Regions from separate parts of the Homo sapiens genome. Here region 2 is linked to region 1. The links come from fine-mapping of genetic effects on gene expression. A gene starts in region 1. The other region holds a variant in brackets. All regions are shown on one strand. Distances are between the middles of the regions.

Region 1 (5,370 bases):
TCAGTGGGACATTTAAGGATTTAAATATATATTAGCATCAAGCTTACCTCAAAAAATACAGCAAAAATCTACGTAAACACCTCATATTGAGCATTTGATTATACTGTGTGAAGGGAAAGGTAGTGATTTTTTTTTTTTTGAGACGGAGTCTCGCTCTGTCGCCCAGGATGGAGTGCAGTGGCACGATCTCAGCTCACTGCAACCTCTACCTCCCAGGTTCAAGCGATTCTCCTGCCTCAGCCTCCCGAGTAGCTGGGACTACAGGCATGTGTCACCTCACCCAGCTAATTTTTTTGTATTTTTAGTAGAGATGGGGTTTCACTGTGTTAGCCAGGATGGTCTCGATCTCCTGACCTGATGATCCACCCGCATCAGCCTCCCAAAGTGCTGGGATTACAGGCGTGAGCCACTGAGCCCAGCCCGGGAAAATTATTGATTTTAAACACACCTCTACATAGTAAAACTACATGAGGGCAGAGGTGGCATCTTACGTATTTTTATGTATGTATTTCATAACTGAAAACCATAAATATCAGATGAACGAAATGGTGGTTTGTCCCTCAACATCATCACTCTAAAAGGTTCTATTGTAGAAAAATTGTAAGCTACACCAAACAGATTGACTTCACTTTATAATCCAGGGCCTCTTTAACTCTGGGAATGCCCACACCCACCCGCTCCAGTTCAAGGACGTGTCTCATGACACCTGAATTTCAGGCAGCCTGTGGAGTTAGTCAAATATGATTTTGAATTGCAACACCACTAGTTTGTAGTCGTGTGTTTTAACATTACTAAACATTAATTTCCTCATCCTTAAATTGTGGATAACATCCACCTGGCAGTGAAAAGTAGAAACAGTGTATACAAGATGCCTCGATGTTCACAGGCTCACAGTCAATGATGGCCCTGCTTGTCAATATTATCCAATGTACCAGTTTTTGTATTCAAGGCCTTTCAGTGCCAGAAGAAACATTTGGGAATTAAGCTGTGTCAAGTTTTTCATTCGTTCTTTGGCCTGGTCTGATGTGGCTCACAATGCAGTGTCACTATCTAAAACACTTGCCGAACTGTGACAAATTCATTCACTCATTCAACCATTCAACTAATATTTATTTACAGCCCAAAGTGCCAGACATGTGAGTCGAGAGGATGAGTCAGACATTTGACTCAGTGGCTGAATATTCTGTACAAACACAACTACCTACACACCAAGGGATTTCTCCACATTTTTACCCCTTAGCATCTCTTGGTGGGACATGGTATCCTATTATCTCTCTGAATTCCCTTATTTGTCTGCTACCGTTAGAGGTATATGGTAATAGACGTTAGTGTCTGCCCACAAAAAATATGACTTGCTTCTCTACCTGGTCACTTTAACAGATACAAAATTAACATGAACTAAAGAGCTCAATCTGAGAATTCAGAGATGACTTCATTCAACAACTACTGTCTCTTTTACCCTACAATTTTGTTTTGTTTTGTTTTTTGAGACAGAGTCTTGCTCTGTCGCCCAGGCTGGAGCGCAGTGGCGCAATCTCGGCTCACTACAAGCTCCGCCTCCCGGGTTCACGCCATTCTCCTGCCTCAGCCTCCCGAGTAGCTGGGACTACAGGCACTCGCCGCCACGCCTGGCTAATTTTTTGTATTTTTAGTAGAGACGGGGTTTCACCGTGTTAGCCAGGATGGTCTCGATCTCCTGACCTCGTGATCCACCCGCCTCGGCCTCCCAAAGTGCTGGGATTACAGGCTTGAGCCACCGCGCCCGGCCCTTTTTTTTTTTTTTTTTTTTTTTTTGACAGAGTCTTGCTCTGTTGCCCAGACCGGAGTGCAATGGTGCGATCTTGGTTCACTGCAACCTCCACCTCCCGGGTTCTAGCGAGTCTCCTGGTTCAGCCTCCACAGTAGCTGGGATTACAGAAGCCTGCTACCACACCTGGCTAATTTTTGTATTTTTTGTAGAGATGGGGTTGCACCTGAGGTGGGCAGATCGCGAGGTCAGGAATTTGAGACCAGCTTGGCCAACATGGTGAAACCCCGTCTATACTAAAAATACAAAAAAAATTAGCCAGGTATGGTGGCGCACGCCTCTAATCCCTGCTACTCGGGAGGCTGAGGCAGGGGAATCCTTGAACCAGGGAGGAGGAGCCGGGCCCTGACCCGCGCGGGCTCCCTTCCTCGGACGCCGCCCCACAGCTGGAGGCCTGGCCCGCGTCGCCACCTGGCCGTCCACGCCGCTGCTTACCCGAGGCTCGCCCGGCCGGCTGCTCCCCGGGCCTGCACAGCTGCCGCCGCGGCCTCGCGGACCTGGCCCGCCCGACCCCCGGGTCGCCCGCGCTTCGCGGCTTCTCCACAGGACGCTCGGGCCACAGCCTCGTGCAGGTGCGACGGCCGCGCGACCGTTAGCGCGAGGCCCCGCCCCGTCCTCAGCGACTCCGCCCCCACCGCTCACTGACTCCGCCCCCACCGCTCACTGGCTCCGCCCCCACCGCTCACTGGCTCCGCCCCCAACGCGCTCAGACTCAGCCCTCGGGGGAGGGGAGGGGAGCCCGGTTCCCGTTTCCTCCTTCTTGGGAGTTAGAGGGACAAGACAGCCGCAGGCGCGGGGAGGGGTCTCCGTGCGCTCTCACAGCCGCGTGTGGCTCTGTGGTCGCTGGATTCCAAAAGACGGTGCGCCGGAAAAAAATAAACATATCTCTCTATCTATAATATTATGAAGGGCGGGCGCGGTGGCTCACGCGTGTAATCCCAGCACTTTGGGAGGCAGAGACGGGCGGATCACCTGAGCTCAGGAGTTCAAGACCAGCCTGGCCAACATGGTGAAACCCCGTCTTTACTAAAAATACGAAAGAAATTAGCCAGGCGTGGTGGTGAGTGCCTGGTTGTCTTGTGGCGCCGCCCGCCCACCCGAGTAGTCCCAGCTACTCAGGAGGCTGAGGTATGAAAATCGCTTGAACCCGGGAGAGGTCGCTTGAACCCAGGAGAGGAAGGTTGCAGTGAGCCGAGACTGTACTACTGCACTCCAGCCTGGGCAACAGAGTGAGACTCTGTCTCCAAAAAAAAAAAAAAAGAAAAAATGAGCCAGGCACGACGATGCATGCCTGTAGTCCCAGCTACTGGGGAAGCTGAGGGGGGAGAATCGCTTGAGCCCAGGAGTTCAAGGCTGTGGTGAGCTATGATGGCGCTACTGCACTCCAGCCTGGGCAAGAGTAAGACCCTGTCTCTACAAAATTAATTAATTAATTAATTAATTAATATATCTACATCTAATGATAGATTTGGCATGTAGTACATCAAGAAAATACCCATAGATGGGCTGGGCGCGGTGGCTCACGCCTGTAATCCCAGCACTTTGGGAGGCCGAGGCGGGCGGATCACGAGGTCAGGAGATGGAGACCATCCTGACTAACAAGATGAAACCCCATCTCTACTAAAAATACAAAAAATTAGCCGGGCGTGGTGGCGGGTGCCTGTAGTCGCAGCTACTCCGGAGGCTGAGGCAGGAGAATGGCGTGAACCCGGGAGGCGGAGCTGGCAGTGAGCTGAGACCGCGCCACTGCACTCCAGCCTGGGTGACAGAGCGAGACTCCGTCTCAAAAGAAAAGAAAAAAGAAAAAGAAAGAAAAAACCCTAGATGTGTATATCTATGTATGAAAAATATATATATAATTAGATGTGCTAAGGATTGGACTTAGGTGAATCTGACAAAAATTTTCTCAGCTCTTCATGTTTTTAATTACTTCCATTTAGAAATCTTTTTAGTTTAATGACTTATACTAATTTTTGTTAACAGAGTACCAACCCAGGGCAAGTAAGATCCAAAAACTAAGTCCATTAAATTTGTCACCTACTACTGTCCACATGTAGCATTATTTAAGTTTCTCTTTAAAAAGAGAAGAACAACTTTGGTGCATATAACACACACATATTATAAAAGAAAAATACCACTGTAGAACCAAGTTTTATGTTATTATTAAAATACAGTTTTTCTTTTCCTCATTTTTTTTTAATTTCCCAAATAATACTGGGAAGCAAAATAAAGTACCTGCATTTCACCATTTCAAATATAATGGGAAGAGTTGGGTTTTTAAATCGTCCCTATTCCTTTCCAGTCTCTGCCTTTAAAAGAAGATATTTTTGGCCGGGGTTGGTAGCTCATGCCTGTAATCCCAGCACTTTGGGAGGCTGAGGAGGGCAGATTGCCTGAGCTCAGGCGTTCGAGGCCAGACTGGCCCAACGTGGTGAAACCCCATCTCTACTAAAAATACAAAAATTAGCCAGGCATGGTGGCGGGAGCCTGTAATCCCAGCTACTCGGGAGGCTGAGGCAGGAGAATCGCTTAAACCTGGGAGGCAAAGGTTGCAGTGAGCCAAGATTACGCCACTGCACTCCAGCCTGGGTGACAGATGGAGACTCCATCTCAAAAAAAAAAAAAAAAAAAAAACAAAAAAAAAAAACCTATCTTTATCTTTCCAAAAGAATAAACTAGTGGCCGGGGGCAGTGGCTCACGTCTGTAATCCCAGCACTTTGGGAGGCCAAGGTGGGCGGATTGCCTGAGCTCAGGAGTTGGCCACCAGCCTGGGCAACACGGTGAAACCCCATCTCTACTAAAACACAAAAAATTAGCCAGGCGTGGTGGCATGCGCCTTTAGTCCCAGCTACTCGGGAGGCTGAGGCAGGAGAATTGCTTGAACCCAGGAGGTGGAGGTTGCATTGAACCAAGATCGGGCCACTGCACTCCAGCCTGGGCAACAGAGAGAGACTCTGTCTCAAAAAAAAAAACACAAAATAACAAAATAAAATAAACTAGCATTTTAAGTCCATCTTAAAGGAGAGGAAAAAATATAAAAATAGTTTTCATGCATTTTTCATTTGAGCCTCAGTGAAGCAATAATATTCTAAAATTTTTTAAATTTTGTCACGTTTTAGTAAATTAATTTTTGCAGAAAGCTACATAAGGTTAAGCAAACAGTGTCAGCCTTGCCAGGACACAACAGGCTTCTCATAAGCCACGATGCTTCAAAATACAAGCCTAAAAGAGTGGAATTGCTTCACGCTCGTGAAATTAAGTCTCCCTTGTTGTGTACGGAATTTGTTTCTTCCATTTTTTATAGCAGTTCTGTGAAATTGGCTTGCTCTTAACAATAGGATTGACTTGTCAATATATTTTGGATGTACACGAACAGAAATAAGGACTAGAAATGCTAGCTTGCCCTTGCCGCTTGATGCAGAAGTCAAGGGTGAGCGAACAAGGGTCAGAGCTGAAATAGCTCACATGTCTGGCTAAAGAAACGGTAGTTGGCTACATGGTCAGCTCCCCAGAGCATGCCAGCTGTCAAAACATCTAGGAGCTGTCACAAAGGAGTGACAGG
Region 2 (5,370 bases), 57 kb after region 1:
TTGGAAGTGGAGAAAGCTTATCCACAGGTAACCCTGAGCCCCTCCCCAGCCGCCTCCTGGCCCTCTGTCACTGAAGCCCCACCAACCTTCTTCCCAGGGCTTCTTACCCCAAGCTCTGTTAACCACAGCCTTAGTGCCCAGGCCCTGGAGAGGGTGATAGGTGGCTTGAGGACCCTGCATTCCCCAGACCGCCAACACATCCATGTAGATGTGGGGTACACATCTGGCACCCCTCCCAAGATTGTGCAACCCTGAAGGGGAGTACGGAGCAGGTGGTGTGAGTGGGTGAACATTTCTTCATCTGCTGCTGCCGTACGCAGCACCCCGAGGGCTCAGCATTTAAGAAACAGAATGAGGGCCAGACATGGTGGCTCACGCCTGTAATCCCAGCACTTTGGGAGACCGAACTACTGCGCCTGGCCCGAATCAACTAGGTTCTAAACCAGGTTATCACAGTACTGAAGGTGAGGAATGACTGAGCCTTGGGCTGGGGAGGTGGCATTGGTGATAGAGAAAAGGAGACACTTAAAATATATTTGGGGCTGAGTGTGGAGGCTCATGCCTGTAATCCCAGTACTTTGGGAGGCTGAGGCAGGCGGATCACCTAAGGTCAGGAGTTCAAGACCAGCCTGGTCAACATGGCGAACCCCATCTCTGATAAAAATACAAAAAAAAAAAAATTAGCTGGATGTAGTGGTGCATGCCTGTAGTCCCAGCTACTCGAGATGCTGAGGCAGAAGAATCACTTGAACCCGGGGGAGGCACAGGTTGCAGTGAGCCGAGATTGTGCCACTGTACTCCAGCCTGGGCAAAAGAGCAAGACTCCATCTCAAAAAAAAAAAAAAAAAAAAAAGACTGGGCATGGTGGCTCACGCCTGTAATCCCAGCACTTTGGGAGGCCAAGGCAGGCAGATCACGAGGTCAAGAGACCAAGACCATCCTGGCGAACATGGTGAAACCCCCTCTCTACTAAAAATACAAAAATTAGCCGGCGTGATGGCGCGCGCCTGTAATCCCAGCTACTCAGGAGGCTGAGGCAGGAGAATCGCTTGAATCTGGGAGGCGGAGGTTGCAGTGAGCCGAGATTGTGCCACTGCACTCCAGCCTGGGCGACAGAGCAAGACTCCATCTCAAAAAAAAAAAGAGAGAGAGAGAATGAGATGAAGGTGCTGTGGTTGATGGCTTTGAGGAGCTCCTTGACCTAGGATGGGTGAGGCCTGCAAGAGGGTAACAGGGGCCCAGTCTGCATGCACAGAGGAGGCCCACCCAGGCCCCTGCTGTGGGGGAAGGAGAGGACCACTGGGGCAGAGCCCCCAAGAAAAGCTTCTAGAAGGGTTGTGATGCGTGTGGAAGGACAAAACAGAAGAAGGAAAAACAAACTCTAGGAATGCAAGGATGTGTTTCTAGAGTGGGGTCTGGTTTGCCTGGAGGTGCAGGTGAAAGGGTTTGGGTTCAGGTGATGCGGGCAGTAACAACAACATAATTGACTGGGCTGAGGAGCTCACACCTATAATCCCAGCATTCTGGGAAGCCGAGGTGGGGGATCCCTTGAGCCCAGGAATTCAAGATCAGCCTGGGCAACAAAGCCAGAGCACGTCTCTACAAAAAGTTTTTTTAAAAAATTAGCCAGGCACAGTGGCTCATGCCTGTAATCCCAGCACTTTGGGAGACCAAAGCGGGAGTGTCACTTGAGCCCAGGCGTTCCAGACTAGCCTGGACAACATGGCAAAACCCTGTCTCTACTAAAAATACAAAAATTAGCGGGGCGTAGTAGCACACCTGTAGTCCTAGCTATTCGGGAGGTTGACCTGGGAGGATCGCTTGAGTCCAGGAATTCAAGGCTGCAGTGATCCATGGTCATGCCACTGCACTCCAGCCCAGGCAACAGAGAAACCCCCTTCTCAAGAAGAAACAACCAGGCCCGGCGCGGTAGCTCATGCCTGTAATCCCAGCACTTTGGGAGGCCCTGCTGGGCGGATCATGAGGTCAGGAGATCGAGACCATCCTGGCTAACACAGTGAAACCCCGGCTCTACCAAAAATACAAAAAAATTAGCCGGGCGCAGTGGTGGGCGCCTGTAGTCCCAGCTACTCGGGAGGCTGAGGCACGAGAATGGCGTGAACCCGGGAGGCGGAGCTTGCAGTGAGCCGAGATCGCGCCACTGCACTCCAGCCTGGGCGGCAGTGCCAGACTCCGTCTCAAAAAAAAAAAAAAAAAGAAACAACCCCAAACTGTAATTATGATAAACAACACCGATCTCATTTATGGAGTAGGAAATCAAGCTGGAGAGGTGGGGTCAGCCTAGGTCAGAGCAGGCAAGGACTGTGGGAACCTCTGAGGGAGGGACCTGGTCTGGTTATTATTTTGCAGAGAGGACTCTGGTTGGGGGAAGGCAGCCAGGAGCTGCCTGGGTTGTAGCGGGGAGAGGTGGGCGGAGGAAAGAGGCCTGGGATGTGGAACCCTAGGATCTAGCCCTGAGGGCGGGCCAGGTCCGGGCAGCCTGGGTCCCACGCAGCTGCCCTGAAGAAGGGGCTGGGGGCGTCCTGCCTCCACCCGCGCCCCCAACCACGCCTGCCGTTCCCACCGGCCGCGCCACCCCCGCCCCCGCCCCTGGCTCTGTCCTCCGGTGACCCTGGAAGGGGCACCCGTGGCTGCGACTGCACTCCCTGTAGCGGTCACTTCGTGAAGCCCGGCAAACCCCCTGCAGCTGCCCCTGGCACCCTCAGACGACCAGAGGCCTCGGCCTGGGTCCCCAGCACCGGCCCAAGGGCGGGCGTGGCCGAGGCGGTTTCTCTGCGCGGACGCTCGCTGCCTCCGCCGCAACCCCCGCGGCCACCCGGGGAACTGCAGCGCCGTCAGGCCCCCCGCCGCGCCTGCGCACGCAGACCACCCGGCCTGGCAGCAC[C/G]GAGCGAGCGTGCCCCCTGCTGGTCAGTCCTGCGCACGGTCCCGCGCCCGGGCCCGGGAGGCCGCCTCGAGGGCCGGGGCTTGCACGTGGCCTCGGCGCCTTCGCCGACCCTACCGGACGCCCCCTCCTCCCACCTGCCGACCCGTCCGCGGGTAGGAGCCTCCCGGGAGCTGCCCACGGCCCCCACCCCCACCAGGGGCCACAGCCCCACCAGGGCCAGGCTCTGCGCGGCACCTGCCACTGAGAGAGCGGAAAGCGGTGGTTGAGCAAGGGTCTGAAGTATGGTCTGTTCCCCCATACGGGCCGCAGACGCTTCCTGGTGGCTGCTCTGAGCCAGGCCTGGGCCCCGGCGAGGGATCACGGTGTCTCAGACAGAGTTCCTTTTTATTCCCCATCCCTCGCCCGAGGTGACGGCCCAGCCGTGCCCAGGCCTGCCCGCTGCCCCTGAACCCAACCCTTGAGGGGCAAGGCCGTGCCCTGGGGAGGAAGGGGCTGCCCCCTCAGAGTCTGCTGTTCCTCAAGGAAGACGCGGGGGCAGCCGCAAGGATGGGGTATCACCCAGCAGGAGCGGGAGGGTAAGGTGACTGATTCCACACCAGACGCTCCATTGCTGGAAACACCACCCCCTCCTCCGGTGACCTGGCATACAGACCTTGCCCACAGCCATCCCTCCCTGGACTCTCAATGTGAGGGGGCCTTGGGGTCCTGCGGTTCACCCGTCTCCCCACTCAAGCAGTCTGCTTGCCGGCACCCCCCCCACCTCCTGAGCCCACTTGCCCCCTCCCACCCCCACCTCCCTACCACATCTTTTTTTTTTTTTTTTTCCTGAGACGGAGATTTGCTCTTGTTGCCCAGGCTGGAGTACAATGGTGTCATCTCGGCTCACCACAACCTCCCTGAGCCTCAGCCTCCCAGGCTGAGCCTGAGCCTCCCAGGTTCAAGCGATTCTCCTGCCTCAGCCTCCCGAGTAGCTGGTGTAGGGAAAAGAAAGAGAGATCAGACTGTTACTGTGTCTATGTAGAAAGGGAAGACATAAGAGACTCCATTTGAAAAAGACCTGTACTTTAAATAATTGCTTTGCTGAGATGTTGTTAATTTGTAGCTTTGCCCCAGCCACTTTGACCCAACCACTTTGATCCAATCTGGAGCTCACAAAAACATGTGCTGTATGAAATCAAGGTTTAAGGGATGTAGGGCTGTGCAGGACGTGCCTTGTTAACAAAATGCTTACAAGCAGTATACTTGGTAAAAGTCATTGCCATTCTCCAGTCTCAATAAACCAGGGGCACAATGCACTGTGGAAAGCTGCAGGGACCTCTGCCCTTGAAAGCAGGGTATTGTCCAAGGTTTCTCCCCATGTGATAGTCTGAAATATGGCCTCGTGGTATGAGAAAGACCTGACCGTCCCCGAGCCCGACACCTGTAAAGGGTCTGTGCTGAGGTGGATTAGTCAAAGAGGAAAGCCTCTTGTAGTTGAGATAGAGGAAGGCCACTGTCTCCTGCCTGCCCCTGGGAACTGAATGTCTCGGTATAAAACCCAATTGTACATTTGTTCAGTTCTGAGATAGGAGAAAAACCACCCTATGGTGGGAGGTGAGACATGTTTGCAGTAATGCTGCCTTGTTATTCTTTACTCTGCTGAGATGTTTGGGTGGAGAGAAACATAAATCTGGCCTACGTGCACATCCAGGCATAGTACCTTCCCTTGAACTTAATTATGATATAGATTCTTTTGTTCACATGTTTTTTGCTGACCTTCTCCTTATGATCATCCTGCTCTCCTACTACATTCCTTTTTACTGAAATAACGAAAATAATAATCAATAAAAACTGAGGGAACTCAGAGACCGGTGCCAGTGCAGGTCCTTAGTATGCTGAGCGCCGGTCCCCTGGGCCCACTGTTGTTTCTCTATACTTTGTCTCTGTGTCTTATTTCTTTTCTCAGTCTCTCGTCCCACCCGACTGGAAATACCCACAGGTGTGGAGGGGCAGTCCTCCCCTTCAGCTGGGATTACAGGCATGGGTCACCACGCCCGGGTAATCCGGGTAATTCTGTATTTTAGTAGAGATGGGGTTTCTCCATGTTGGTCAGGCTGGTCTAGAACTCATAACCTCAGGTGATCCACCTGCCTCGGCCTCCCAAAGTGCTGGGATTACAGGCGTGAGCCACTGTGTCCGGCCCACCACCTTAACATGGATGTTTGGATGAGCCTGGGGCCCTGGGATGCAGGCAGGAGGCACTACTCCCCAGCCCCCACCAGGATCACCACCCCTGCACTGCTGTGGCTGAGATCCCCAGGCGCCAGCAGGCCTCCAGCCACCCAGCTACCGGCCTGAGCCTGGTAGACAGCCCTGGGGACAAAACCCTGCACACAGGGGCCCAGTTTGCAGGCGAAGGCCAGTCTGCTCTTGGGCCTGAGTCCACTCTCGGGGAAACACTGGCCCCAGGTGCAGAGCTGGGAGTG

The links.
Region 2: its variant is fine-mapped to the expression of MEIOB in caudate (GTEx, PIP above 0.99).

The regions. Positions count from the first base shown.
Region 1 is chr16:1,869,751-1,875,120 of GRCh38, forward strand. MEIOB (meiosis specific with OB-fold) reads right to left here and starts at 2,414. Exons shown (of 14, transcript NM_001163560.3): 1 at 2,243-2,414.
Region 2 is chr16:1,926,949-1,932,318 of GRCh38, forward strand. No RefSeq gene overlaps it. Among named protein-coding and RNA genes, the nearest start is that of HS3ST6, 11 kb to the left of the region's middle. The variant C/G (reference allele first, on the strand shown) is at 2,906.